Linked DNA regions of Homo sapiens. The protein of the gene in region 4 interacts with the protein of the main gene of each other region in a pairwise test. Each region holds a gene or a part of one and is shown on either strand. Other genes may lie near its edges.

Region 1 (3,500 bases), on a different chromosome or scaffold from region 4:
GAATCTTAGCTGCTCACAAACTAGATGCACATTCTATTTTTTTTTTTTTTTTTGAGACTGAGTTTTGCTCTGTCGCCCAGGCTGGAGGGCAGTGGTGCGATCTCAGCTCACTGCAACCTCCGCCTCCCGGGTTCAAATGATTCTCCTGCCTCAGCCTCCCAAGTAGCTGAGATTACAGGTGCCTGACACCATGCCCAGCTAATTTTTGTATTTTTAGTAGAAATGGGGTTTCACCATGTTGGCCAGGCTGGTCTCGAACTCTTGACTTCAAGTGATCTGCCTGCCTCAGCCTCCCAAAGTGCTGGGATTACAGGCGTGAGCCACCTCACCTGGCCTAGATCCACATTCTTGACCAAGCCATTTAAACTCTTGAAGCTTCAATTCCCTCACTGTAAAATGGAGACAACAATTGCTTCACAGAGGAGGGTGTAACTGACAATCTAGGGGAAGCATTATCATAGAGCAGAGAATAATATTCTCTTTTCTCTGCCATTTTCCCCCTGTGAACTTCCATTGCATAAATCTAATAAATCCAACAAAATCAGGAAGGGTACCTAGAATAAAGCCTTCTTACCCATTCTGCTTAAAAAGAAAATTCTGCCAAAAATTGTAAAGGATTGGACAGTCTGCAGCATAATGAAGTTTGGTTACAGTGTTCCACATCCAAACAGTATCTCCACTGCGTTTAAACCAAGGTCAGGTCTGCAGGTAAGCATGGATTGCAAGGCCCTGTTGATGCTGTTGGTCCTCTCACTGAAGTAGGAAAGCTAGGAAGGACTTCCTCAAATACTGGATATGACTTTTATATGGTAAAGACTTAAATCTGCTTGACGGAATGGAAGAAACTGTCAAGGTGTTACTGCGGCACAATAAGGCTGATTTCATGAGACATATAAGAAAGACAATCTTATTACTTCACCAGGCTCATGTTATACTGTCTAGGTAGCAGAATGCTTTACAAACAAGGTAAAGCAGGCACACAACACCACTTTAATAGCAATGGCACGGGAGGAAAGACAAAGTGTTTCAGTCTTTTCAGTTTCAGGTAGATGATTTAAAGGTAAAAGGCACGCTGGGCACAGCGGTACATGCCTGTAGTCCCAGCTCCTCAGGAGGCTGAAGCAGGAGGACTGCCTGACCTATGCTGGGCACAGTGGCACATGCCTGTAGTCCCAGCTCCTCAGGAGGCTGAAGCAGGAGGACTGCCTGACCTATGCTGGGCACAGTGGCACATGCCTGTAGTCCCAGCTCCTCAGGAGGCTGAGGCAGGAGGATTGCCTGACTTCAAAAGTTCAAGTCTAGCCTGGGCAACAATGTGAGAACCCTTCAAAAAACAAAAACAGCTGTGGGGAGAGGAAAAGCTTCAGGCTTAGAGTCCTTGCAGTCCCCTCCTGGGTTCTGACAACAGCAGCTTCCCCAAAAGCTTCAAGGGTATGTTTCTGTAATTTTTGTACTAAAAATCGAACTAGCAATTGCTAGTTTCCTTTAAAATCATGTGATCATCCTGCTTTGCTACTAGCTCTATGTAAACTGTTAACTCCTAGAATAATCAAACAGGGACGGGAAAGAAAGAAAACAGGAAATATAAAAACGTGAAAAAGTGAAAATGAATAGGAGAAATGCGAAGAAAGTGGCACTTCCAATGACAACAGTTCCACTAGCATCTGCCCATCTGTAAGAGGGATGACCACAACGTTAATGTCTTCATTCCTCAAACAAATATTCACTGAACACCAACTATATGTCAGGCACTGGGCTAGGCACTGGTGCTTAAAGAAGCGTTATAGCGGTTAAAGAGGAAGAGTCCCATCTGTCAGAGAATTCAGAACGTAATGGGGGAAATGGACACTTACATAACCATGCTATGAAGGGAGATGTCAGATGTGCTCTAACAGAGAGGGGTGCCTTCTAAAGGAGCGTCATTTAAGGGACGACTAAGAGCTCTCCAGGCAAAGAGGGAGGTATTGCAGTGAGTGTAGAAAAGCAAGAATGAGAATGGCAAGAAAGATGTGAGAGTGGGTGAGTGTGCCATGGTTTTGTAATTGGAAACTTCATTAAGTACTAACAGAAAGATTCAGGCCGGGCGCGGTGGCTCACGCCTGTAATCCCAGCACTTTGGGAGGCCGAGGCGGGCGGATCACGAGGTCAGGAGAATGGCGTGAACCCGGGAGGCGGAGCTTGCAGTGAGCCGAGATTGTGCTACTGCTTTCTGGCCTGGGCAACAGAGCGAGACTCCGTCTCAAAAAAAAAAAAAAAAGATTCAATACCAGGGTGAGGAGTTTTGACATGGAAAATATTCTGTTTTCAATGGGAAAACCACTGAACATTGCTTTTGTTTTTTTTGTTTTGTTTTGTTTGTTGTTTTTGAGACGGAGTCTCGCTCTGTCGCCCAGCCTGGAGTGCAGCGGCGCGATCTCGGCTCACTACAAGTTCTGCCTCCCGGGCTCACGCCATTCTCCTGCCTCAGCCTCCCAAGTAGCTGGGACTACAGGCGCCCGCCACCACGCCCGGCTAATTTTTTTGTATTTTTAGTAGAGACGGGGTTTCACCATGTTGGCCAGGATGGTCTCGATCTCCTGACCTTGTGATCCGCCTGCCTCGGCCTCCCAAAGTGCTGGGATTACAGGCGTGAGCCACCGCGTCCGGCCCCTGCTTTTGTTTTGTTCTGTTTTTTGAGACAGTCTCGATCTGTTGCCCAGGGTGGAGTGCAGTGGCATCACCTGGGCTCACTGCAACCTCCGCCTACCAGGTTCAAGCAATTCTCCTGCCTAGCCTCCTGAGTAGCTGGGATTACAGGGGTGCACAACCACATCTGGCTAATTTTTTGTATTTTTAGTAGAGACAGCATTTTGCCATGTTGACCAGGCTGGTCTTGAGCTCCTGACCTCAGGTGACCCACCCACCTCAGCCTCCCAAAGTGCTGGGATGACAGGCATGAGCCACCAAATCCAGCCAATCACTGAACATCCCTGAGTAAAATATTATAGTAGCTTTGTTTCTGAAAAATTAAACTAGTAGCAGGGTGAGCTGGGATGACAGGCATGAGCCACCAAATCCAGCCAATCACTGAACATCCCTGAGTAAAATATTATAGTAGCTTTGTTTCTGAAAAATTAAACTAGTAGCAGGGTGAGGCTATCTGGAATTGGGACTAAATTCAGGTTGGAAGATTAGTTAAGAAGCTACTGAGGTAATCCCCAAGAAGAGATTATATGGGTCTACAGTGAATAAACTTTATATCTGCCCAGAATTTGTCCCTTTATTTTGGTAAGAGAACCCTGATTTTCCACTGAGGAACCACCTCTCTACTACTTACTCTGGTCCATGAGGTTCCAAGATCTCACCCTCCCTTAGGATCCAGGGTTGGGCACATAACTTAGGCCTGACTAAGCAGAATAGCCCATACCCCGACCACAAGAACAGAAACATAACTCAAGTCAGTCCAAAAAGAGTCAGCCCCGGGATTTTTGCTTTTGCTGGAGCTGCTGGGACTGCATCTT
Region 2 (3,500 bases), on a different chromosome or scaffold from region 4:
GCTGGGGAGCCCAAGGGATGTCTTTGAAAAGAAACCTAGACCTGGGGTGGAAGTTTTCCTTTGGGATGAGCCCAGGCAAGCAGTGACTCTTGGTGGGCAGCTGAGGGCAGAGCCTTGGGCCTTCAGCCAAGCTGGGGGCAGAACTGACATTGCCTTGTGAGAGGCAGAGGGGCCAGACCAGCCACTGGGCCTGGACATAAAGGCTGAACTGCCCCACAGGAACAAATCCGGAGTCTGATCCTGTGCACAGAGGTGAGGTTTTGAAACAGCCAAAGTGGAGCCTCCAGGGCTGGGTTTTAGCCAAAGGAGGGCCCTGTGTCATCTGGAGAAGGAGTGCAAAGCTGCTATCCTAGAGCAAGGCTGCAGTAACTTAGCCTGAAAAAACAAAGGCAGCTTTCCCAAACATCTTCCTCAGCCATTGAAAACAACAACAACAACAAAGAAACCAAATCATGTAAATCATAGGTAAGAACTTTTAGCCTTGAGCAATTAACCTTCTGATGAGGATGCCAAGAAAAAACTAGTTACATAACATAAACCTAGTAAGGGAATGCGGATATATGCTGTATGAATTTATGACCTGTCAGTTGGGCAAAAGTCTGGAGGTATCTACAAATTGTAAAGTTTGATGTAAAGATCATTGCACTGGGCAACATAGTGAGACCCCTGTCTCTACAAAAAAATTAATTAGCTGGGCGTGCTGGTGCTTACCTGTAATCTCAGCTACTCAGAAGGCTGAGGCAGGAGAATTGCCTGAACCTGGGAGGCGGAGGTTGCAGTGAGCCAAGATTGTGCCACTGAACTCCAGCCTGGGCGATGGACCAAGACTCTGTCTTGAAAAAAAAAAAAGATTGAACTACAGCCCTGTACTATATTGTGCGCATGGCAGTAACTCAGGACTCAGGAGCCGGGCAAGATCACCTTCAGTTTGTGATGAGACAGCCATGCTATCTTCCTGTTTTCCATAGTGGGACTCAAATTTAGCTCATCCTGAACAGTATCCAGCAGTTCAGATATACATGAAAGAGATCAGAGGGCTACTCTCCTAAATGTTTTCCCCCTTGGAAACTGTTACATGGTCTGCAAAGAGGCCATTGCTACTGATTCTACCTCCTGCCGTGGGTGTCGGAGGACATGCTCCAAGTAAGTGGCCTTCATGGAGCCCCTGCAGCTTAACTAGAGTGCAAAGCCACTGCATCAGAGGTGAGTGAAGAAAGGCCAAGTGCAGTGCAACATCATACCCCCCACTTCCAGGTTAGTGTCTGGGCTGTGTGTAGATTTCTAATGCTGGCAGGCCAGGGTGGTATACCACCCTATAAACCAGAGACATCAAAGGTTGCCCTTTGAAGGCAGTGAATCGACTTGGGCCACCTAGTGATTCAGGGACAGGTAGAAAGAGAAACACAATAGAAGCTGTTTGGGGGCAGAGAGGCAGGTCTCAGATCATTTTAGGGAAACTGGATCACAGCGCAAGCTAAGCTGGTCAAAGCTGCCAGGAGGGATCAGGGAATAGTCTAGAAGTTGCAGAGCAGGGAACTGAGTGGAGCCAAGTACTAGGGAGAAGACACCAGCTACCAGAGGGTGGGTGATGGCTCCAGGCTCAGAGGAGAGAGGCCTGGGAACGGGAGAATGGGGGAGCTGGCTAGACAGGAAGTGAAAGTGGAGTAACAACCTGTCACAGCTGGATGAATGGGACACACCGGACCAAGCTGAGGGAAGGTACTAAGTCTGGGCTATGGGTTTGAACTGTGCAGGTCAAAAGAAAAAAAAAAAACAACATTAAGTCTGGGTTGGCACCTCCCCTGCCTGGACCCCAGGGTTTTCTGGGGTCTCCTTCAGGAGGTTTTAGTGGTTTTACATGAAGCAATGCCCCAGAGGCCTGAGGAGGAATGTCTGGGGAACCCAGGGCCTGTCTTTGAAAAGAAACTTAGAAATCCCACTGTCCCTCACTGGCTCGGGCACCACAGATTCCAGAGCAGAGACTCAGCAAAGGGAGAGGGGACATTTTCAGGGAGGACAAAGGTAGGGGTGTGGGCTCCAGGCTGTGGACACAAGTACCACCTGGCAGGGCTGTGAGGTCCTGTTCTCAGCTCCAGGGCACGACTGTCAGCCACTCTGGGTCCACAGAATCAGGGTCAGGTCACCTTTGGGGTAACCAGGGTGGAGGCAGGACCTCCCTCCCGTTGCCAGGTCAGAGCTCTCCTGAGGCTGAGGACTCAAGGTCAGCTAGGCAGGCGGGGACAGCACGGGTACCAAGGACTTCAAATCTGTGACTCAGCAGCTGCCTCTCAGCCTGGAAAGAGGAACGCACAGGGCCTGCCACGCCTGGTCCAAGGTAGGGGAGGAATGTGGGCCGAAAGAGGGAGTGCCAGTGCTTAATAATTAATGGCTTTTTCTTTCTTTTTTTCTTTTTTTGAGACAGAGTCTCACTCTGTCGCCCAGGCTGGAGTGCAGTGGCGCGATCTTGGCTCACTGCAAGCTCTGCCTCCCGGGTTCACACCATTCTCCTGCATCAGCCTCCCGAGTAGCTGGGACTACAGGCGCCCGCCACCGCGCCCGGCTAATTTTTTGTATTTTTAGTAGAGACGGGGTTTCACTGTGTTAGCCAGGATGGTTTCGATCTCCTGATGTTGTGATCCATCCGCCTCGGCCTCCCAAAGTGCTGGGATTACAGGCGTGAGCCACCGTGCCCGGCTCTTTCTAGGCTTTTTTTTTTTTTTTTTTTAAAGACAGAGTTTGCTCTTGTTGCCCAGGCTGGAGTGCAATGGCGCTAGCTATCTCAGCTCACTGCAACCTCTGCCTCCTGGGTTCAAGAGATTCTCCTGGCTCAGCCTCCTGAGTAGCTGGGATTACAGGCATGTGCCACCACGCCTGGCTAATTTTGTATTTTTAGTAGAGACGGGGTTTCTCCATGTTGGTCAGGCTAGTCTCGAACTCCCGACCTCAGGTGATCCGCCCGCCTTGGCCTCCCAAAGTGCTGGGATTACAGGTGTGAGCTGCTGTGCCCAGCTGGCTTTTTCTATTTTTATAAATGCTCGTGGCAGTGGGCAGAGGGAACACAGCGAGAATCTAGGACCTCACTTGTCCCACGGCTGCTTTCCACCAGGACAGAGCATCAAAGCCAAACAGGATCTCTACAGTCAAGCTTCTGGAAAGTGGAATCAGGGCCTGCCCTTTGGGCAGGAGGAAACAGACAGGAGGGAAGACCAGGTGGCTGGCTGAGAAAACCATTTCTGGGCCACTCACAGGCAACCAGGGAGCAGCTGGGTGGAAGAGAATTTGTGGGTTGGGAGATGCAACAGGCCTTTGACACCCAATATGGCTGGCCTTTGGCCCGTGCTCCGTCCCACCATCCAGCTCTCCATGCCTGGCCCCTGGGGCACAGGGCGGGCAGGGCCCACGGGAATGCCCCACAGAACCCGTGTCTGATGCTTCCTTCAGCCCCTCCCTCCCTATTTTCCAGCCTTCTCATGTCGCTCCATGACTTGGTACAAGCATCG
Region 3 (3,500 bases), on a different chromosome or scaffold from region 4:
TCAGCCTCCCTAGTAGCTGGGATTACAGGTGCATGCCACCACACCCAGCTAACTTTTGTATTTTTAGTAGAGATGGGGTTTCACCATGATGGACAGGCTGGTCTCAAACTCTTGACCTCAGGTGATCCACCCGCCTCGGCCTCCCAAAGTGCTGGGATTACAGGTGTGAGCCACTGCACCCGGCCTATTTTAAGTTTTTATAAAATGAGTTTGTAAACTCAAATTATCTATAGTGATTTCAATCACGGCGTTCCCCAGAATTCCAAAGGGGACGCTATTGGCCACCCCACTTCGGGAGCTGCTCTCCTAAGCGCTTCTCTGTGACCTCCTAATCCTAACCATCCTCACCAGGCTCTCACCCTTCACTCAGTGGGTGGACAGACACTCCCTGCCTTCAGTAAAGCATGCTCACCCCAATGAGAGAAGTCAGCGGGGGGAAGGGGAAATTCTCTTCCTAAAGAGGAAATGAAAAATTGAGATTGGGCTTCGTTTGTCTCAAGAATTGACCACAAGGGTTAGATAGAAATCTAATCTTGCCTCAGAACCAGGGTCTAGCTCAAAGAGCAAAAGCTTGTTAGAAAACCACAGTAGTATTGGTGACTCCAGCAAGGTGCAAGAGCACCAGTCTTGGTAAACCTGAACTGACCACCAAACCAAGAGAATGACCACTGACCTTGACGGAACCCTTGATGCTGCCCAGGAATCTGCTAGGTGACCTCTGCATACCCCACGTGCTCCTCAAACCTTCAGCCCCTCCGTGCATCACTCTTAGCCCGTGACCTTGATTCCAGGTTCTCTGGAACAATGAAAGCCACCAGAAGTGAAGCTCCCAGACCCCCCTCCCCCACCGCATCCACCTGCCTCCTGCAAGTGTGCTCAAACAGTCGGCCTTTCCTGCAGCTGGCTGGAAGGAACTGTCACTGCTTCTAGCAGAAATTCTCCTCTCTCTCTCTTCCACGTCAACCTCCTTTCCCTCTCTGCTGGATCATTCCTGTCAGCAAACACACACGCTGCAATTTCTCCCAACTTACCAAAACACAAACAAACAAAACCAAACCCAGAGGCCAGGTGGGTTTTGTTGTGGCTGATGCCTGTAATCCCAGTCCTTTGAGAGGCTGAGGGAGGAGGATCACTTGTGGCTAGGAGTTTGAGACCAGCCTGGGCAACATAGCGAGCCCCATCTCTACAAAAAATTTTTAAAAATTAGCTGGTCGTGGTGGCATGCGCCTATAGTCCCAGCTGCTTGGGAGGCTGAGGCAGGAGGATCGCTTGAGCCTGGGAGTTCAAGGCTGTGGTGGACCATGATTATATCACTGCACTCCAGCCTGGGCAGCAGAGAGAGACTCTGTTTCAAAGAAAAAAAAAATTTAAATAAATAAATAAATCAAGAAAATTCTTAATCCCAAATCCCCTTCCACTTGCCACTCCATCTCTTCAAAAGGAGTGTGTGCATTTGCTACTTCCAACTCCTCATCTCCCGACCCTTCCCACCAGGCTCCCCATGGGCTGTAGCTCCCAGGGGTCATCTCAGCATGACCTGCCCTGGGGATCCCCCCTCCCACTGGAACACCTCTTTCATTTTGGCTCCAGGACGTCCTTCCTCCGGTTGTCCTCCCACTGCCCTGGCTTCTCCTCCTCAGTCTCTTGTGTTGGTTCCTCCCACTCCCCAGTCCCCTATAGGTTTAGAATGTCTCCTTTTCAGTGAGGTCTTTCTCATCACCATACCTTACATTAATCTCCCACCCACAGCGCCCCATCTCTCCTCTCAGTTTTCATGTTCTCCACAGCACTTACCATCATCTGGCACGCTTCAGATCTTAATTATTTTGTTCTTTTGTGTGTGTCCCCCTCGACTAGAATGTAAGCTCCCTGAGGGCAGGGGTGTGTGTCTGTTCTGCCCACTACTGTGTCCCCAGTGCCCAGGAGGGGCCCAGCACAGTACTAGATGTTCAGTAAAGCTGTTGAATGAATGAATGAATGAATGAACGAACGAATATGTATTATTGAAACCATGACCACTCATGTCTAATATGCAATGTGTGGTGATTTTTACAAATCTTTAAAGAAGCCCCCTATCAGATTGCAGTCAGAGGACAAATGTGTATTTCCTAAATCCCCTTCACTTCTGAAATGTTTCCTTTGCGATATGGCTGCTGTGGTGCATACTCCATTCCTCTTCCCATCCCCATTACATTTCCCACACGTGGCAGTGGTGTGTGTGGTGGCCTCTTGTTTAGCCCTGTAGAATTGTGTGGCAAATACTCAGGCAGAATCTCCAGGCCACCAGAAACTGCTGCTTTCAGCCCTCTCAGAGCACAGCCAAACTTCCCCCTCAGTCCCAGTGGGGGACTCAGTCTCCAGTAAGTACATCCTTCCTGCTACCTATGTCTCAGTTTCCCAAATTCTAGAAAGCACAGAGAATTGCTCACAAAGGAATCCAAAGCCAAGGCCTGACGGGCTTTTATCTTAAAGGAACATGCGTATGAGCCTTCTGGTGACAGCAATTAGAGCAGCCACCTTGAAGCAATGTGACACAGTCCCACCTTTGGCCGCTGAGTGATTGCAGACACTCATTTTGCTTGTCTGTGGTGGAGAGAGGTCTCTGGCCTCCTGCTTTGAGGCTGCAGCCACAGCTTGCCTGGCCCTGTGTAAGTGTTTGACCTATTTCATACATGCCACGCTGTATGCAGCTGTACCTCCAGGGGCTGCCACCCTGACCATTCTGCTAAAAGAGTAATTTCTCCTGTTTCTTCTTTTCCACAGTAAAGATTATTTCCCAGCCTGGATTTTTGGGGCAGGCCCAGGATCTGGTTGTATAGACGCCGCTCTCTGGCGGCTGCCAGCCTCGCTGATTTCCAAGCATGTACACTGGACTCCCTAGGAACACTGCAGCCTCTGCTAGGCACACTGAGCAAAGCCCCCTTGTGCTCCATGCCAGCCTAGGTAACGTGACGCCCTGGGCTGTAACTTTCCTTTAATACCCAGGGAGGAACCTCTAGGCCACTGAGACCTCAGGGCAGGCATGAGCACCCCAGGCCCTGCTCAGCCGGCTGCACCTGGTTGGCTCCAGTGCCTGAAGCCTTCCCTTCCCTCCCCAGTGCATCCTCTGTCCTCGCAGCTCTGGTCTATCTCTTCCGCAGCTGCCGGCAGGCGGCTGCTTCCTGCAGTGAGTCACTCCCACACTGCCCCATTTTGGTGCAGCGACACATTTCCATGATTCGTTTCCCAGGCTGGAGAGAGACTTCTCCTGGAGAGAAGGAACAAAGAGGGTGAATCAAGGGGAATGCTCCCTCGCCTTTCCTGAAAGCTGCCTGGAGCACTGGTTTGATTTCAAACAGCACCTGGTCTCTCTCTGCTCCCTACTGTACAGAGTCCCCAGCCTCTTTCCCTCTGGGTCACCTCTTCTCCACGTCTCCCTCTTGTCACTCCTGTGTCTCATCCTGATCCTTTTGTTTGATCTCGCCCCCACAGATGGTTTCACGAAGGCCTCTCTCGACACC
Region 4 (3,500 bases):
ATGTTGGCCAGGATGGCCTCAAACTCCTGACTTCGTGATCTACCCACCTCGGCCTCCCAAAGTGCTGGGATTACAGGCAGGAGCCACGGCGCCCGGTCCTGAATTCTTTTCAAATGTTTTTTTAAATCATGAAGCATGCTTCTGTGAAGATTCTCCTATGTTTCCTGGTGCTTACACACAAATGTCCTTGCTGTATACATATGCAAGAGTGGGAAGTGGTGAACATAGGAATTCATGTTTTCGATTTTTTTTTTCATTTTTTTTACCTCCATTCTCTCAGAATGTGATCATGTTTTCAATTTCATTGGATAATGCCAAACTTTTCCAAAGTGGCTATGTGAATTTACATCCCTATTAGCTGCCCTGCATCCTCACCCACATGTTATATTGTCAGATCTTTCCATTTTTTCCATTCTGAAGGTGTAACATCATGTCACAGTGGTTTTGATTTCCACTTTACTGATGAATAATGAGGCTGAGCAGTTTTCTTATTTATTGGCCCTTTGGTTTTCCTAATCTATGCAGAAATTTGTGCCTACTTTTCTTTTTGGGTAATTCTGCGTCTTTTTATTCTATTCAGAGGAATTTATTAAGTGTATTGACAAATTGAAACAGTGAGAATTTAACAGTTTTTTTAATAAAAAAATTTAAATTCACTGTCTTCAGTTTAATACAATTTTTTTGAGACAGAGTTTCGTTCTTGTTGCCCAGGCTGGAGTGCAATGGCACGATCTCAGCTCACCGCAACCTCTGCCTCCCAGGTTCAAGCGATTCTCCTGCCTCAGCCTCCCAAGTAGCTGGGATTACAGGCATGTGCCACCATGCCCAGATAATTTTTTGTATTTTTAGTAGAGATGGGGTTTCACCATGTTGGCCAGCTTGGTTTCAAACTCCTGACCTCAGGTGGTCCATCTGCCTCGGCCTCCCAAAGTGCTGAGATTACAGGCATGAGCCACCACCCCCGGCCCAGTTTAATACAATTTTTAACATATCTCATTTTAGAAAGTCACTCTATGTGGGTTTTTTTTTGAGACAGGGTCTCACTCTATCACCCAGGCTGGAGTGCAGTGGTGTGATCATGGCTTACTGCAACCTCAACCTCCTGGGCTCAAGGAATCCTCCTGTCTCAGCCTCCATGTGGCTGGGATTACAGGAATGCACCATCATGTCTGGCTAATTTTTAATTTTATTTTGTAGTGTGGGGTCTCAGTATCTTGCCTAAGCTGGCTATGTGTTTTTTAAACTGATAGAAGTTTTAGTTCTTTCTTTTTTTAATGTATAAGCCTCATCTTCATGGAATAAAAGCCTATAGGCTAAAGAAATAGTTACTCATTTACACTGAAAAGTATTACTTCTATTGTCTGAAGTTTCACCCGGTGTGGTGGCTCATGTCTGTAATCCCAGCACTTCGGGAGGGCAAGGTGGGAGGATCACTTGAGGCCAGGAGTTTGAGACCAGCTTGCGCAACATGGTGAAACCCCGTCTCTACAAAAATTAGCTGGGCATGGTGGTGTACACCTGTGGTTATAGCTACTCTCGGGAAGCTGTTGTGGGAGGATTGCTTGAGTCCAGGAGGTTGAGACTGGTGAGCCGTGATTATGCCACTGCACTCCAGCCTGGGCAACAGAGTGAGAGCCTGTCTAAAAAAAAAAAAAAAAAGTTTCCTGAATGGGCGGCTTCTGACCTGATGCCAGGGTAACAAGATAGACAAGATGTCTTTAATAATAAAAACACAGGCCAGGCACAGTGGCTCATGCCGGTAATCCCAGCATGTTGGGAGGCTGAGGCAGGAGGATTGCTTGAGCCCAGGAGTTTGAGACCAGCTTGGGCAACACAGCAAGACTCTGTCTCTACACTGCACTCCAGCCTGAAAAAAAGAAAACACACACACACACTAAACTAACTGCATAAGAGACTACTCGCTCAATCATCCATGGCACGAAAGCATCATATGACTGCTTGTGAGACAGAATCAAGTTGCTGTGAAGGCCAAACTTGCCTGCACCTTGCATCCATACTGTGCAGAAGCTGGACTTCAGCCAAGAGTCACTTGCTTTTAGAATAATGGTTTTGGTTGTTAAGTATAAAGTAGGGAAGTATGTTTTAAGCATGACGGAACAAATAAAAGGAAACAAAATGATTTCACCGAAATAAATGTTTAATTATAAAAACCCAGTAATCTCTCTAGGCCTACTATGGCTCACAAGAAAAGGAAAAATGTTTTAAAAATTAAAAACACAAAAAGCCCCTCCCTGGTGTTTTGTAGCAATTGTGTGAGTTGTTTAACACGCTTCATAGCACCGAGTCGCCTCTACATTCTTGTAAAACATTAGTGTTAACACCTTCAGAGATTGTACTGAATTAAAAAGATCAGGCATACACTTACCCCATGGACAAGATAAACTGTCTTGTTGTGTACAGGCTGTAGTGTGGTCATATTTGAGGTTGTCTGGAAAAAAAACAGCGAGTTGAAGTGACAACAAAATACTCCCTTCAAGAGTGGAAAATCCTGGCCGGGCATGGTGGCTCACGTCTGTAATCCCAGCACTTTGGGAGGCCAAGGTGAGTGGATCACTTGAGGTCAGAAGTTTGAGACCAGCCTGGCCAACATATAGTGAAACCCCGTCTCTACTAAAAAATACAAAAATTAGCTGGACATGGTGGTGCATGCCTGTAGTCCCCACTACTAGGGAAGCTGAGGCAGGAGAATCGCTTGAACCCCGGAGACAAGAAGTTGCAGTGAGCCGAGATCACACTACTGCACTCCAGCCTGGGGGACAGAGTGAAACTCCGTCTCTCAAAAAAAAAAAAAAAAAAAAAAAAAAAAGAGTGGAAAATCCTTTCGTTGCTATTACAACATGTAATTTACTGAGTTACAAACAGCAGGGTCAGGGCTGGGCAGGTGCACACACTTATCCATCCTGAGGAACTGCCAGGACAAGACAAAGGCATATCTACTCCTCGCTTGCTCTGATGCTAGTGGCAGTGATCCAGGTTGTGGCAGGTGGCTTCTGTTTCTATGCACATCAGTAATCTAAAACTCAGTCCCATCGTCCTCTGTGGCCTGTGTTAGAGGTGAGGGGACCAGGTGCTTCCATGAAAAAACTTCTCATCTCCAACCAGCCATGCTCCCAGAGAATTTCACAGTCTCTGTGGTGTCAAATCAAAGGGCGCTCAAAGGCAGTTTAAGCTCTCCATCAGGCGAGTACATAGCTGGACACAAGGGAGCCCAGGACTGGTTTGGCAGTGGCAGCAAAATGCCCTCCTGTGTTTTCTTGTCTCCTACAGCTGCAGTCAGTAAGCAGAAGTTCTATGCAAGATTTCCAAGACATGATGATGTGTCTTCTTGTATAGTCACTGGAAAATTAAATTCCTCTAAGGCTGGCATGTACCTTGTTCCTCTGAGGATATCTGATTTTGCAGGCCAGTAAGAGGTAGACTGTAATACCTGGTGCCCTATCCACATAAAGCTACTTTAGAAATAAGGAGGAGCTTTCAAG
Region 5 (3,500 bases), on a different chromosome or scaffold from region 4:
TGGGTCACCAGTTTCCAGATACCAGCCCATGGAGGGGTGCTGGGCTGGGCACACAGGGCTGGCGGGGCAGCTTTGTGAGTAGACTCGAAGCCTGAGTACTGGAGACGGAGCCGGCTCTGGGGCCTGGGCAGGCGCACCCACCGATGCCATGCTTCTCCATGAGCGTGATGAGCTCGGCCTCCGTCAGGTAGTCGGGTGGGTTCGTCTGCTTCTCCAGCATCTTCACCTCGCCCACAGGGAAGGCATCACCCCGCTGGCAAGTGGGCAGGCTCTCCTCCAGGGGCACGCTCTGCCAGGGCATGACCTCCGTGAAGCCTGGAGAGATATGCGCCGCCACTCAGGGTCCCCAGCCTGGGTGGCCGGGGCCTCAGACCCTGGGCCTCCCATCCCCAGACACGATGTAGAATGTTTGTCTGCCCATGAAGGCACAGAGGAGGAAGGCTGGGCCCGTGGTGTGACCTGGTGAGAGGACGGTCTTCCCGGAGCAGGTGAAGAGCTCGGGCCCAATTCTGAAGGAGATGGTGCTCTGCAGGTACTTGCAGTCATGGCTGACCGTGGCGATGAAGTGTCTGGTGATGTACTCATAGAGCCGCCACGCGTCACCCCCTGCAACAGGCCAGGGCTAGTCAGTTGGGAGCCAGCTGGGGGCTCTGGCCGTGAGGAGCCCCCAGTACTCTCGCTCGAGCAGCAAGCTCCTGCTTACAGAGCCGCTGTGCAGGACACACTGCAAATCCTGGGGAAGGAGGAAAGAAAATGTGCAGGAAGGCCGGGCGTGGTGGCTCATGCCTGTAATCCTAGCACTCTGGGAGGCTAAGGTGGATGGATCACTTGAGGTCAGGAGTTTGAGACCAGCCTGGCCAACATGGTGAAACCCCGTCTCTACTAAAAATACAAAGAAATTAGCTGGGTGTGGTGGTGGGAGCCTGTAATCCCAGCTACTCGGGGGGCTGAGGCAGGGTGAACTGCTTGAACCTGGGAGGCAGAGGTTGCAGTGAGCCGAGATCGGGCCACTGCACTCCAGCCTGGGTGACAGAACAAGACTCTGTCTCAAAAAAAGAAAAAAAAAAAGCAAATGCGGAGGAAGGGAACACAAGCCTCCATGCCTCAGTGGTTTCTTTCTGGCTGCGGCTCCCACCATCCTGCACAACCTCCTGTCCCTGCTTCTGGCGGGACTGCTCTTCAGGCATTGGCCTGTCTTTCCATTGTCTCGTGACATGACACCATTGCTTCAAACTCAGACTGTCCACAGGTGGCTCCTGTCTCTACCTGCACTGCTCTCCCTTCCTCATTTGCCTTCTCCTGGCACTCGGACCACTGGTACCACCTTAGGCCAGCTGGGAGGTAGGAGGTGTGCTGCCCCCTCCCCCACACCGCCACTCTCTACCCTGGTTTCATTCATGTCCCCTGTGGCGTCTGCCCCCTTGCCTCCCTGCAACAGCACCTGCTGCTACCTCTTCACTCCTGTCCTGGTCCCATAGCAATGGAGCTCATCTTCCAGGTGGCCCCCCATCCCCACAGCCAGGGCAGGCAGAGGCTGAAGGAGCCCCCACATTGCCAACAGGGCCTGCAACCTTCACTGTCGCAGCTCGCCCTTCCCTCCCTGGAAGCACACCGGGTATGGGATGAGAGCGGTACCTAATTCGGCCTCTGTGGCAGACTTCATGGGGGTGATGGGGGGATGGTCGCCGGCGTCATGGCCTTTCCGCGGGCGGTTGATACCTTCTGCTAACAACCGCTTCACCTGAGGGAGAGAAGACAGAGCAGAGTCTGTGGCTGGGCTCGGCTGCCTGCCTGGGTTTGGCTGACGTACCAGACCTGGTCCCAAGGCCTCAGTGACACACACACATGCTGAGGCCGGCCCGGCTCCACTCACCGTGTCGGCCCAGTAGGGGTGGTTGGCCTGCTGCCGCAGAGAGCCCTTCAGGTCAAAGTTCTCAGGGTAGTGGGTGGTCTCTGTCCGTGGGTAGCTGATGTAGCCTTGCGTGTAGAGCCGCTCAGCCGTCTGCATGGCGTGCTGCGGCCCCATGCCTGCGAGAGACAGGAGGTTCTCAGAGGGCCAGGTACGTGGGGATGGCCAGCTGCCTGCCCTGGCCTATGCACTCAGGCTCCCCCATTGTGGCCGGCCCCTCCTGGAGGGTGACGGTGGCTCTGAGCAGGCACAGCTGGAGTGCAAAGCTGCTGGCCGGGTGGGCACCTATGCCACACAGTCTTGTATGAGGCTGAATCCCGCACCCGTAAGGCTGAATCCTACACCCAGGATGGGCCTGATGGGAAACGCCACTCACTCTACCCCACGGTGCATCCTCATGGGGCTCATGGCCATGGGGATGACACATGGCCTTCAGAGCACCACTCCCCATGCATTGTCCATGGAGCCATAACCATACCTCGGGGTTGGCTGACGACAGAGTTAGCACGCAGCCCCATTTTGAGCCCTTGGGTGTTTCTGTCCTCACAGCACTTTGGGGCCACTCAGGGGGGCTCGTCCTGCTACTCCCTGACCAGCAGAGGCAGGCGCTTAGCTAGCAACCACTCCCAGCATTGCTGCCCTCTGAGGACGCTGGAGCCACCACTCAGTGTCCACTGAGAGGACACTGCCCATAGTTCCCTGCGGGGGTGGGGGGCACCAATGCCTAGGGGCTGACAGCTGCCAGAGACCACCAGCTTTCCAGCCCAACCCCCTCCTCGTTACTAAGGAGAAAAGACTGAGGAGATGAGGCTGAGGGGCGACGTTCACACTGGTTCCCTGAAGGTGACATCTGGCTGGGGCCTCTCCCCTCACCAGGGATAGCTGCTCAGGGACTCTAACATCAGGAGGTCCCCTCAGGTGGTGACCAACTTTACCACCTTTACAACCTAAGGATAAGTGAAATCCTCCTGAGGCTCAGATCCCCTTGAAGCCTTGGGCACCATCCTGCAACCCTGGGCACTCGCTGCTCCAGGCTGAACCTGCCTCAGGAAGCCTTCTGGTGACTTGAGAGAAATGTCCCTACATACCCAGAGAAGAGCTGGCCACACGCAGCATCTCCACAGTGTTCAGGGCCAGGGGCCTCTGCTTGGCCTTTTCTTTCCTGCTTGTGGCCTCCACCTGGAAGACAGGACAGTCAATGATTTGGGGAAGGAGGAAGACACCACCATAGAGGGAATCAAGATGTGTGGACGAAGGGTCTGGTTTCATTCATCTGGTCTCCCTGTTTCTCCAATTCATTCTTCCCAACAGTCTAAAGACTTGATTGAATATTTATTCAGGACCAGGAAAGGAAAAAGAATGAAAATTCTTTTTTAAAAAAAAATTTTGGCTGGGTGTGGTGGCTCACGCCTGTAATCCCAGTACTTTGGGAGGCTGAGGCGGGTGGATCACCTGAGGTCAGGAGTTCGAGACCAGCTTGACCAAGATGGTGAAACCCCGTCTCTACTAAAAATACAAACATTAGCTGGGCATGGTGGAACGTGCCTGTAATCCAAGCTACTCGTGACGCTGAGGCAGAATTGCTTGAACC
Region 6 (3,500 bases), on a different chromosome or scaffold from region 4:
CCTGTGGCCACCCCACCTGTTCCCAAGATGCCACCAAGCCGCCCTTACCTGTAGATCGGGGTTGTGTAGTAATTGCCCACCTTCTTCTTTTCTGCATTGTAACGAACACCTGGAAGGGGGTCAGGCGGGGGTGGTAATTTCATTGCCATCTGAATTTTGCAGATGGGTAAAATGAGGTACAAAGAGGCTCACTGTCACTTGCTGAGGGTTCCCCAACTAGGAGGAGTTAGAGACGGGATTGGAAGCCAGAGCCTGGCTTCCTAATCCCTCTGCAAAGGGGCTTCCATGGCCAGCCAGTCACTCGGGTGCCCGTCTCCTCCCTCATTCCTGATCAGGACCCTCCCACCCCCACCCCGGCGGCATCCAGCAGTTAGGGGGTCTGATGTTTGCAGGACTGAATGGAGGGTGGGCAGAGGCTCACCCATGCCGATGTGGTTCTTGCAGCCATCGCACCAGATGTTATATGGCATTTCGAATCTGCAAAGACAGACAGCATCTTACTTGCACTTGTCCACTTGGACACTCCCTGGGTCTCCACACCTGCGACTCTGGCCGCGGTTGTGATTTGAGGGGTGGGGTATTAGACTGCCCTGTTAACGGGAGTTGCTGCACTCACATTACACAGGAAATGGATATATGGAAGAAAAAGAATCACAACCATTGTAACTGAGCAGGAACTTCCTGCCTGCTAGAAAGCAGACTGACCAGGTCCAGGGACAGCCGCCTTTGGGTGCTGCTGCGACTTTTTTTTTTTGAGACAGAGTCTTGCTCTGTTCCCCATGCTAGAGTGCAGTGGTGCGATCCTGGCTCACTGCAACCTCTGCCTCCTGGGTTCAAGCAATTCTTATGCCTCAGCCTCCCAAGTAGCTGGGATTATAGGTGTGCGCCACCAATTCCGGCGAATTTTTTTTTTTTTTTTGAGATGGAGTCTCGCTCTGTTGCCAGGCTGCAGTACAGTGGCATGGTCTTGGCTCACTGCAACCTCCAGCTCCCTAGTTCAAGTGATTCTCCTGCCTCAGCCTCCCGAGGAGCTGGGATTACAGGTGTGAGCCACCGCACCCAGCCTAATTTTTTCTATTTTCAGTAGAGACAGGGTTTCACTGTGTTGGCCAGGCTGCTCTCGAACTCTTGGTCTCAAGTGATCCACCTGCCTCACCCTCCCAAAGTGCTGGGTTTACAGGCGTGACCCACTGTGCCCAACTACGATCACTGTCTTTTTTGAGAGTCCTATGTGATCAAGTCCAGGCTGGCCTGCTACAGGTTGAGATACAACACGGAGCAGAGCCCAGCTGTACAGGTCAAGTCCCTGCTAAACCAGCCAGTCCCCAGCCAGCCAACTCTGAAACACATGGGAGCCCAGCCCAGATCAGGCCAGCCTAGCCCAGCCCAGCCAAGCTCTTCCAAGCCCAGCAGAGATATTTTGCTGAGCTGCAGACATGTGAGCAATAATAAATGCTTATTGTTTTGTCACACGGCAATAACTGACTGATACGGTGACTTTCTGCTTTATGGAATGAAGACCCTGCAGCACTGGGCCAATGAGGGCACTGAACTCTCCTTGAGACTGAAGGAATGGGGCAGGACGGTGGGGTCCTCAGGTGATGCTGGGCCTTACCGGATGATGAGGATGCCCTGTGACAGCTTCCGAGCCCGCTCCCGAAGCGGGTGGCTGTTGTGGTATCGGTTGAGAGAGCCATGCTGTGTGGAGAGGATGAGGAGCGGATTAGTGCTGCTGAGCTGGAGGAGCTCACAATTTTCTGCCACCCCCACTGCTTTGGGACAAGTGTCTCACAGGTGGGAGAGGCCTTGATTCTTATGTCCTGCAGGACGGGTGTTCATAGCAATAGGGGGCATCCAGGTCTTACTGGAACATGTAGGCTTGGAACCAGGAACGTGAGTTTGAATAGTCCCTCTCTTATTTATTTATTTATTTTTTGAGATGGAGTTTTGCTCTTGTTGCCCAGGCTGGAGTGCAATGGCATGACCTTGGCTCACTGCAACCTCTGCCTCCCGGGTTCAAGTGATTCTCCTGCCTCAGGCTCCTAAGTAGCTGGGATTACAGGCGCCTGCCACCACGCCCGGCTATTTTTTTTGTATTTGTAGTAAAGACGGGGTTTCACCATGTCACCCAGGCTGGTCTCCAACTCCTGACCTCAGGTGATCCACTTGCCTCGGCCTCCCAAAGTGCTGGGATTCCGGGTGTGAGCTACTGCGCCCAGCCCTGTTCCCATTTATGAGCTGAAAGAGCCAGGGGACCCTGGGCGAGTGACCTCACGTTTTGCCTTCCCGAGCCTCTGTTTCCCTTGTCTGTCAACTACGTATAATGGTCATTATTACTTCCAGGTTTTATGGGGAAGATGAGGTGAGGTGACAAGACTGGCAAACATTCGCTGGGGACTTCATGTGCATCACCTTATTTTTTTTTTTTTTTTTTTGAGACAGAGTCTCGCTCTGTCACTAGGCTGGAGTGCAGTGGCGTGATCTCGGCTCACTGCAACCTCCGCCTTCCGGGTTCAAGCGATTCTCCTGTCTCAGTCTCCCAAGTAGCTGGGACTACAGGTGTGGGCCACTACGCCCAGCTAATTTTTGTATTTTTAGTAGAGATCAAGTTTCACCATGTTGGCCAGGATGGTCTTAAACTCTCGACCTGGTGATCCACCTGCCTTGGCCTCCCAAAGTGCTGGGATTAGAGGCGTGAGCCATGGCGCCGGCTTTTTTTTTTTTTTTTTTTGAGGCAGGGTCTGGCTCTGTAGCCCAGGCTGGGGTGCAGTGGTATGATTATGACTCACTGCAGTCTCCACCTCCTGGGCTCAAGCAATCCTCCCACCTCAGCCTCCTGAGTAGCTAGGATTTATCCCTCAATGATTCTGTGAGGTCAGCTCATTTTATTTCCCCCTTCTGACGTATGGAGAAACTTTGGCATAGAGAGGCTAAATCCTATACTCAGGACGAGGCAGCTGGGACACTTGGGCCCTTACTGAGCACCTACTGTGTGGGGACACAGCCACAATAAGATAGATGAACATCTCTGCCTTCAGGGAGAGAATGTTCTAGCGGGGGAGATGGACAAGACGCAAATAAATGAATAAGTGAGGGAGTTATAAGGGCTATGAGATTATATAAAGTGCTCAGCAATGCAACAGAGAACGAGACAGTGGTCAGGGAGGACCTCTGTGAGAAAAGCACTTAAGGAAGTGAGAGTATGGTGAAATGGAGGAAGAGATTCCAGGCAGAGGGGACAACCAGGACGCCACAGGTGCTGGAGCTGGGGAAGCCATGGGATCTGACCCTTCATCTGTGCGCTCTGCCTTATCCTGGGCCCCTGCTGTAAACACACTATACTCTAGTATAGTGTGGACATGGAGTTACAGGTCCCTGAGGAGAGCCACAGTTATCACCCAAAAGTGAAGACAGCCTCGAGACTCAGGTGACATGCAGAAGACAAAAAGACCTTGGGGGCCACCCATCCTTCCGCAGCAGTGGCTCTAACCCCAAGAGGG
Region 7 (2,600 bases), on a different chromosome or scaffold from region 4:
GAGAGAGGGGCCTGGAGGGGTCCTCAGCCCTGGGGGATTGGGGTCAGCTATGCTGTCTCCAGACACTCACATACTGTCCTGACAAGTGGCATCCGTCAAGCAACTTCTCTCTCCAGGCTCAGTCCTGCGGTCTGTGGGGAGACCATTGCCATGGATCTGGCTCAAAGGCAACAAGGGCACTGTCGGGACTGGACTTCCTGTGGGCGCAGCTGGAGTCAAGGCTTGGGGTCTTGGGGTATGCTTCCAGCAGCCAGCAGGTGCTTGGGGTGAGTGACATGACAACACACGGCACTGGCAGACAAAGCAGCTGTGCCAGTCTCCGAGTTCCTGGGACTCTGCCAGATGGGCTGAGGCTGCAGTTCCACATTCCAACCCCAGCAGCCCCAAGCCTGGGCCAGGGCATCCTGAGCGGGCCCGGCTGGGGTGGGGATGGGGTCCGAGGGCCTAGGCGCACCAGGCTCCTGCTGTCAGCTGTCCAAGTAGACAAAGAGGATGTCCTCATCTGTGCCATAGCTGGTTCTGGCCTCCTCAAAGTTACTGATGCTGGTGCTGCACATTCCTGCTGGGGGTGGGGAAGGCAGAACGGGGTCAGTGGGTTGTGAGAGAGCACCTACACCACCGACACAGTGCCCAGGGGAGCTGAGTGAGGTCTGTTTCCCATCCACATGGCCATTCCTCTCAACTCAAGTCCTCCACCCCCAGGAAGCCCTCCTTGCCCATCCTGGTCTTCATGAGGTTTCTCTGACTCCTCCCCAGTAAAGCAGTTGGAGAAAGGCCCAGAGAGGGGCAGAAACGTGCTCCAGGCCACATAGACGGGGTAAGTCTATGTGGTCAGGGCGTCCAGGGGCTGTCTATGTGAATCCAGTCTATGAGAGTCAGGGCAGCCCTTCCCTGTGCCCGGAGGGCAGTAGGCAGGCCAGGATGGGTCTAGAGCAGGGGCTGGGTCTGGCCGGGCTTTTCTTTCTGAGGAATGTGCCGGCCATCCTGGTGGTTGGGGGAGGGGTGCAGCCTGGGCAGCATGAAAGGGTAAGGCAGGGACCTGGGCAGTGGCGTGGGGCCTGTGGTGTGAGAGGGAGGGGTGGCCAGGGTGTAGAGGAGGCTGGCACAGTTTGCGGCAGGTTTGCCTGCATGGCCTGAGGGGTGGCCACAGTGACAAGAGCCCAGGAGGAGCAGGGGCTTTGGGGAAAAGGTAGGGAGGGAGGCCCTGGCCACACTAGATTGAATGGGTGGGAACTGTGGGCACTGGGCATACAGAACAGTGAATGTGGACCACTCTGCCTCACCCACCCCACCCAGCACTCACGGTCGGCATAGGCTGGGTTGTTGTAGAAGATGCAGCCAGTGGCCCGGTTGTAGCCACGCAGCACGATGAAGTGGCCCTGGTAGTCAGGAGTGCGGCAGAAGCAGTGGTGGCCACTGGGGGTGAAGCAGCAGTACTTGACAGGGCTGGAGCACAGGTCACAGTGCAGCACCCCCGAGTTCACCAGCACGATGGCCACATGGCCCTGAGCCAGGTGCGCCTGGATGTCCTTCACACTCACTGTGCTGTGGGCGGGAGGGGGGTCAGCTGGTGCTGCTGGGCCCCCATTCCCCATCCCTCAAATGGATCCCTGCTTGTGCCTGTTTCTCTGTTACAAAGCTTGGGGATCGGCTCCTTTTCCCTTTGCCCTGAACTCCCTGCTCTGTCACTGTGGCCCAGGCTCAGCCTAGAGCCAAGCAGGAGACCGGTGGGGGGGGTGTGTGTGTGTGTCTGAATGTGCACAAAGATGAGCTGGCTCTGTCAGGCCCTTCACGGGGAGAGCATTCAGCTCCAGGTGGGTCCAGTCAAGGGCCACTAGAGCAGCACACAGAAACCATCCTCCTACTGCACCCCAGCCTGGTTAGTGAATTCTTTTTGCCCAGCCCTGTCTCTCCTCTACCCTAAATCATGTGTGGTTTACATTGAAAACTGCCAGCCAAGCATGGCTCAGACACTTTCAAAACCAAATGCTTCTCTGAAAGAGCTATTTTACTTTTTTTCTAAGGCTCCTGGTGGCAGAAGGGGCTGCCCAGGAAGGGCTGGGCCACATTGCTTCCAGGGGAGCTCCAGTTCAGCAATGACATCTACCTGGAGCCTCCCTCACTGGCAGAAGGCACTGCCCCATCCTGTGCCTTCCACTAGGCAGCAAATCCAAATGAAAACCTAGAGCAGGGCTGGGCACAGTGGCTCACACCTGTAATCCCAGTGCTTTGGGAGGCCAAAGCGGAAGGATCGCTTGAGACTAGGAATTAGAGACCAGCCTGGGCAACACAGCAGTACCCTGTCTTTACAAAAACATTTAAAAATTTACCAGGCGTGGGGCGTGGTGGTATGAGATTGTGGTTCCAGCTACTCGGGAGACTGAGGCAAGAAGATCACTTAAGCCTGGGGCTGTAGCAGTGAGCTGTATTGCAATATTGCGCCACAGCACTACAGCCTGTATGACAGATTAAGACCCTGTCTCTTAAAAAAAAAAAAAAGAAAAGAAAAGAAAACACCCAGAGGGACAGAGGGCAGATGGGGCTGTGGGCAGGGGGAGCTCTAGGCCAGGGGCTCCTGCATCTTTGCTGGAGGGGCTGCT

The links.
Region 1: the proteins of ZNF250 (region 4) and RUBCN interact in binary tests that used the Homo sapiens proteins (3 or more experiments, as listed by UniProt).
Region 2: the proteins of ZNF250 (region 4) and CDR2L interact in binary tests that used the Homo sapiens proteins (3 or more experiments, as listed by UniProt).
Region 3: the proteins of ZNF250 (region 4) and GRAP2 interact in binary tests that used the Homo sapiens proteins (3 or more experiments, as listed by UniProt).
Region 5: the proteins of ZNF250 (region 4) and TOP3B interact in binary tests that used the Homo sapiens proteins (3 or more experiments, as listed by UniProt).
Region 6: the proteins of ZNF250 (region 4) and YJU2B interact in binary tests that used the Homo sapiens proteins (3 or more experiments, as listed by UniProt).
Region 7: the proteins of ZNF250 (region 4) and GUCD1 interact in binary tests that used the Homo sapiens proteins (3 or more experiments, as listed by UniProt).

Annotation. Positions count from the first base shown.
Region 1 is NC_000003.12:197,726,905-197,730,404, forward strand, and holds part of RUBCN (run domain Beclin-1-interacting and cysteine-rich domain-containing protein), read right to left. Parts: intron 1-3,500.
Region 2 is NC_000017.11:74,990,632-74,994,131, reverse strand, and holds part of CDR2L (cerebellar degeneration-related protein 2-like), read right to left. Parts: intron 1-3,500.
Region 3 is NC_000022.11:39,956,584-39,960,083, forward strand, and holds part of GRAP2 (GRB2-related adapter protein 2), read left to right. Parts: intron 1-3,471; coding exon 3,472-3,500. UniProt on the Homo sapiens protein: Interacts with SLP-76 to regulate NF-AT activation. Binds to tyrosine-phosphorylated shc.
Region 4 is NC_000008.11:144,884,454-144,887,953, forward strand, and holds part of ZNF250 (zinc finger protein 250), read right to left. Parts: intron 2,450-3,500; coding exon 2,387-2,449; intron 1-2,386. UniProt on the Homo sapiens protein: May be involved in transcriptional regulation.
Region 5 is NC_000022.11:21,962,288-21,965,787, forward strand, and holds part of TOP3B (DNA topoisomerase 3-beta-1), read right to left. Parts: intron 3,089-3,500; coding exon 2,998-3,088; intron 2,029-2,997; coding exon 1,874-2,028; intron 1,742-1,873; coding exon 1,636-1,741; intron 607-1,635; coding exon 460-606; intron 316-459; coding exon 142-315; intron 1-141. UniProt on the Homo sapiens protein: Releases the supercoiling and torsional tension of DNA introduced during the DNA replication and transcription by transiently cleaving and rejoining one strand of the DNA duplex.
Region 6 is NC_000019.10:13,754,395-13,757,894, reverse strand, and holds part of YJU2B (probable splicing factor YJU2B), read right to left. Parts: intron 1,699-3,500; coding exon 1,616-1,698; intron 478-1,615; coding exon 422-477; intron 110-421; coding exon 49-109; intron 1-48. UniProt on the Homo sapiens protein: May be involved in mRNA splicing.
Region 7 is NC_000022.11:24,542,539-24,545,138, forward strand, and holds part of GUCD1 (protein GUCD1), read right to left. Parts: intron 1,546-2,600; coding exon 1,304-1,545; intron 563-1,303; coding exon of another isoform or gene 560-562; coding exon 468-559; 3' UTR 1-467.